Linked DNA regions of Homo sapiens: region 2 is linked to region 1. A link means that fine-mapping ties the variant in region 1 to the expression of a gene that starts in the linked region. Tissue or cell type: whole blood. Region 1 holds a variant in brackets; the other region holds the start of a gene. All regions are shown on one strand. Distances are between the middles of the regions.

Evidence for each region. PIP is the estimated chance that this variant, and not a neighbour inherited with it, causes the effect.
Region 2: it holds the start of LRP6, and the variant in region 1 is fine-mapped to the expression of LRP6 in whole blood (GTEx, PIP above 0.99).

The regions. Positions count from the first base shown.
Region 1 is chr12:12,318,114-12,320,871 of GRCh38, reverse strand. No RefSeq gene overlaps it. Among named protein-coding and RNA genes, the nearest start is that of MANSC1, 31 kb to the left of the region's middle. The variant TTCAG/G (reference allele first, on the strand shown) is at 1,071.
Region 2 is chr12:12,265,800-12,268,557 of GRCh38, reverse strand. LRP6 (LDL receptor related protein 6) reads left to right here and starts at 1,514. Exons shown (of 23, transcript NM_002336.3): 1 at 1,514-1,877. The coding sequence starts at 1,823. RefSeq lists enhancers at 1,284-1,333, 871-1,507 and a silencer at 1,514-1,823.

The sequences.
Region 1 (2,758 bases):
ATGAGCCACCGTGCTTGGCCTCATTGTTTAATATTTAATGAAAGTATACATGGTGCTAAATTTATTTAGCCTCAGTCAGTGACCCCTAACAAACCACTAAGGCATTCCATGCCAGGCTGACCAGGTACAGTGGCACACAAGCCAAATGCTACTGCCACACAGCCTCCTTTTTAAATGTCCCAGAGTAGAGAGGAATAGGGACAGCTGCATTTTTGCAGCCAGCAAGGAGCTCCAGAGAGATCCTTTCCCAGCAGCCCCTGCCTTCCAGACAGGCGTTCTTATGCTCCAGTTATGTTCTGCAAATCTCAGCTTTTTTCATGTCCTCATCAGTCAACATCATCAGCAAGCTTTGCGGGGAGAAAGCCAAAAAAGTTCTTATCTTTAAAAACAAAAAAAAAAGAAAGGAAAGTCTTGCATTAGACGGACTTTGTCCAGCGCTGTTGCACCCGCCCTCCCTTCCTTCCACTCATACCTAACTTTGAAAACTGTCCCCAGGCATAATAAAATCCCCCTGGCTGGATTTACGACCTTCCAAGCTGCAGTGGAGAGGAAAAAGGCCCAACTCTGAGAAAAACAAGTATCCAGGGAGGACGGTGTGTGCTGAATTTTAAAATGTTAAATTACGGTGAAAAATTTGCTGGAAAAGAAACTATCTTTCAAATTGTGCTACATAGTAAAGTTAATAGAGCCCATATGTCCTCTACTAAAATTTAGAAAAACAAACTAAAAACAATACTTTCGCGCCTGCCAGGCTGAAATGTGATCTACTTCTTAATATTCACCCAACACAGGGTAAAATGCTTTAAGATGGTAATGATTCCAAAGCGCAGCTCAAGCTCAGTGGATAAACAACAGACCTCAAACCCTGGGGGGCTCATGTTCTCATCATAGCTCTGGGCAAGTCACTTAATCTCATGGTTCCTTCTCAATTTTCTCAGCTCTGAAACGGGGATGGCAGCACTTCACGAGGTGTTTATGAGGCATACTAAGATGGTTGTAAAACATTTTACAAATGTTTAATAACTGATGCCCTTTTCATAATTTGGCTTTATAACATCTTTCATTATTCA[TTCAG/G]TGGTGTGGAAATAAATGAGTACAGGGGCTATTTACTCAGAGCTTGCTATGCTATGGGAGTCAGCTTCCATCACTTTGGCAGAAGGTCAAAGCAGGCAGAGGAGTGAGAGAATTTACAGTGACAAAAAGGGAAGGCTTCAGGTTTATCTGGATTGGAGCTTATTGGCACGAGGAAGTGGGAGATGGACTGCTTAGAAGCAGGGCAGGCTGGGTGCGGTGGCTCACGCCTGTAATCCCAGCAATTTGGGAGGCTGAGGTGGGAAGCTCACAAGGTCAGGAGTTCAAGGCCAGCCTGGCCAACATAGGGAAACCTCGTCTCTGCTAAAAATATAAATAAATAAATAAATAAGCCGGGCATGGTGGTGCGTGCCTGTAGTCCCAGCTGCTAGGGAGGCTGAGGCAGGAGAATTGCTTTAATCTGGGAGGCAGAGGTTGCAGTGAGCCAAGATCGCACCACTGCACTCCAGCCTGGGTGACAAAGCGAAACTCTGTCTCAAAAAAAAAAAAAAAAAAAAAATGAAGCAGGGCATCTTCGGTGATTAGTCTGGGGAGCATCTTTGGCTTTCTCTGGTCGGTGCTGAGTTGGAAGCCAAGTGGTTTGGCTTCCCCAGCTGGTTGCTACAAAGTTTGTGAGACTCAGTTCTATTCCCCATGGTCTGGCCATTGTTCACTGTTGGTATATTCATCCGTGAAAAATTAAAGATAGGAGGGTTCTGACTACCCCAGGAGAAAACCAGGTGCCTGCCTAGCAGCCTAGGGAGTAATTTATATTTCTTATACCTTTTAAATACTTTTAGAAGAAGCAAATTTAGAAGATAGACTGCTGAACCAACAATTTTCACTCTCTTGAGTCACTGGGCACAACGAGCTAGCAATCAGGACAATTGAGTTCCAGACATGAGTCTATTATAAGATGGGCAAAAGGGAGGTGGGAAGACTGACAAGTCACATAACCTCTCAGGGCCTCAGTTTCCTTGTGAACAGCCTGCGAGTTCCTATCTGTCTACCCTATTGCATTGTTTGGTTTTGAGGATAAGTGGCCTAATAGTTTGTAAAAGGACCCTATAAAGCAGATTTTTTTTTTTTTTGAAATAGAGTCTTGCTCTGTCGCCCAGGCTGGAGTGCAGTGGTGCAATCTTGGCTCACTGCAACCTCTGCCTCCTGGATTCTAGCGATTCTCGTGCTTCAGGATCCCGAGTAGCTAGAATTACAGGTTCACGCCACCACGCCTGGCTTATTTTTGTATTTTTAGTAGAGACTGGGTTTCACTGTGTTGGCCAGGCTGGTCTTGAACTACTGGCCTCAAGCGATCCGCCTGCCTTGGCCTCCCAAAGTGCTGAGATTACAGGCGTTAGCCACTGCATCTGGCCCCGGCTAATTTTTGTATTTTTAGTAGAGACGGGGTTTTGCCATCTTGGCCAGGCTGGTCTCGAACACCTGACCTTGTGATCCATCTGCCTCGGCCTCCCAAAGTGCTGGGATTACGGGCGTGAGCCACCACACTTGGTCCCTATAAAGCAGATAGTTTAAACCCTATAAAACAGGTATTTTAGAAGTGTGCTATGGAAGAATGTGGCATAAGCCTTTGAAGATCCACCTAGTGGACTGGAGTCTTGAAAATGCCCACGTGTCCTGTAGGAGGAATGCCAGACTCTTACAGACTCACCCTCTTTCCCATCTCTGT
Region 2 (2,758 bases), 52 kb after region 1:
TCTCGAACTCCTGACCTCGTGATCTGTCCGCCTCGGCCTCCCAAAGTGCTGGGATTACAGGCCTGAGCCACCCGCCCCCGGCCCAGTTTCCTGCTTTGAGGAAGCCAGAATACAAAACTCACTTGGTTCTTAGAAGCAGGTCATTTAAATAAACGGTGACTAGACCTCAGGTGAATTTGGGAGAAAGTGATTTGGCTGTTTCTGCTGTCCATCTACTTACAAACCTGCAGCACCTTTGGTTCAGCGCGCATTTCTTGGAAGGAGCGGAGTGGCTTAAGTCAGAGACCTGGATTGGGCTGAGGTACTGCTATTCATTACTTGAGTGGCCCTGGGTAAGTCATTAACCTCTCAGGTTCTCATTTTGCTCCTCTGTGCAATAAAGAATAAGTAACAAAACCTGCCTTTCCCCAGGGTAGTTTTGAGTGTCAAATATGATAACTTGTGTTCAAGCACTAGTGAACTCCAATGTCACTGAGGTACTTGTTAACATTGTGGTAGCAGCTCCACTTTCTTGCCCATCTGCCTCCAGGTAAGGGCGTGTGACAGCTGGGCAGGATGCATCTGATGGCTCCATTAGGGTTAACTGTTGGAGCGCCTCTGCCCAGACGAAAGCCTGGCAGGTGATTTCAGGGGGCGTCTGGGCCATTACTCCTGAATGCCCAATGCACTGGGAGTAGCAGAGGCTGTGCACAGTCTGAGATTCTAGGGAATCTTTTCCTTCTCAAGCTGAGAATTGATAATCGAAGCATGCCAAACATTCGTTATTATATGCAACTTGTAAAATCCTAAATAGTCTTGTCCAATTGTCCCTTTGCTCTTAGGTTTTGAGGCATTTATCTTGGAATTTTATCTGCCAGTTTAGAAATCTTTAGCTGGTCGGGCTTAATTCTGGGGGCAGTTTGTATTTCTGGGAAGGCGGGAGAAAAATGACAATCTCAGTTTTGAATTGGCGTTTTAATATCGTTCACCAGATCCACGCTGAAAGCCGGTGTAAACAGCGTTCAAAAATTCCGCCCTCCCAAAAAAAGGATGCTGAAACCGATTTCCAACCCCGAAGACGGAGCTCATCACCCCGCAACGGGATCCGCCGTGGCTCCCCGCGCGTGCACCGCGGCTGGGCAGTCTCAGGTGGCTGGGGGCGCGAGACCGGAGCCCCACCTGGCCCTGCCGGCGGCGGCCGCACAAAGAGCGGGGCAGACGGCTGCCCGGCCGAGCCGCAGAAAGTAGTCCCGACCACGCCGGCTCCAATGTTGTTCAACGCCGCCTCACGCCCTCCGCGGGGAGGGCCGAAGCGGCCGGTCCGGGAAAGAATCCCGCTGGAATGCGCCACCGGGAGGAGGCTTTCCCTCCCAGTTCGCCTCTGCTAGCCCAGAACCTCTCCCAGGGTCTCAGGCAGAGGCTGTGCGTGCGGTTGCCGACTCCCTTCCCTGGCCGTACAGGAGGCAGTACCGGGAGAAGGGGCTCGTTGCGCGCAGGGACACGGTCGCGGCGACCCTAGGAGGCGGTGCCGACCGTATCCCTGCGCCGCTGCGCGAGGCAGAGGCTGAATGAGGAGCTGCGCGGGGGAAGCGGGGCGCCGGGGGAGGAGGCGGCGGGATGGAAGCAGACGCTGGCGTCGCGCGAGCCCGGGGCCGAGCGGCGCGGTAGAGAGGGCGGCGGCGGCGCGCGCGGAACCTTGACGTGCCCCTTTCTTTCTTCTCTCGCTGGGAAGCTGGGAAGTATGAGCGTGCAGCCCTGCCGCTGCGGCGGCCGCCCCGGCTCCTCGCCTCCCCCACTTCTGGCCACCCCTCGCCGGTGAGAGAAGAGAACGCGAGAAGGGAAGATGGGGGCCGTCCTGAGGAGCCTCCTGGCCTGCAGCTTCTGTGTGCTCCTGAGAGGTGGGAAGAGTGGGGGCACTGGAAAGTTGGTGGGGTTCGGGGGGAGGTGGCCTTGTTGTATGTGTCTAGGGGGAGGGGAGGGACGGAGGAAGGGAGAAGGGGAGAGGAGCGGGGAGAGGCCTGGTCGTGGGGAGGGGGAGAGAAAGGGGCCCGGGAGCAGGGGCTGCGTGCACCGCCCGGCCACAATGCGGACCTGGCCTGGCTTCCCAGACCTTCCCCGGACACATCGGAGCTTCGATCCCGGCTGCTGGTCTTAGGGAACCCTTGGCACCCCATGCTGTCGGGATGACTGAGTGTCTGTGTGCCTCTCTCTGCCTGGGGTCTTCCAGGGAAAAGGGTCTTTGTACGTATTTTGGCTTTTAAAATGTTTGAGTCCGAGATGCTTTAAGGTTGGCCTTATCCATCGAAGCCCCGCCACCCACTCCCCACCCCGTTTCGGTGTTTCTTAGGTGAACTTTTAAAGCCCTCTTGCTATTTTTTCCAGGCCTTGTTACAGGTAATGATTGGCTTCCGTTTGGGATATAATGACCCTGGGTGAGAGCGCAGTTGGAAAGTGACTCCGGGGTTATAGGTCGAGCGTTTCAGCATTGGGAGCCTTCTGAGCTTCAGCCCATAATAAAATAAAACATTGCCCTTGTAACCTCTGGTATTCACGGCTTGCCCCTATTTTCGGAGTATGCAAGTGTACAGTTGGCACTAAGTAGGGAAATTCATCCTCGTGTGAAGAGGAGCCGGTCCTGGGACCAAAATGATAATTTGCTCTGCACCCCTGGGGACTGCTTGGCACTTTGGTAAATTGCATAGGCTGTTCGAGATAATTTGCTCTGGGAATCGCTTGAATTCGATGGCACTATGATGTTTTGAATTGGACTGCAAAGCTG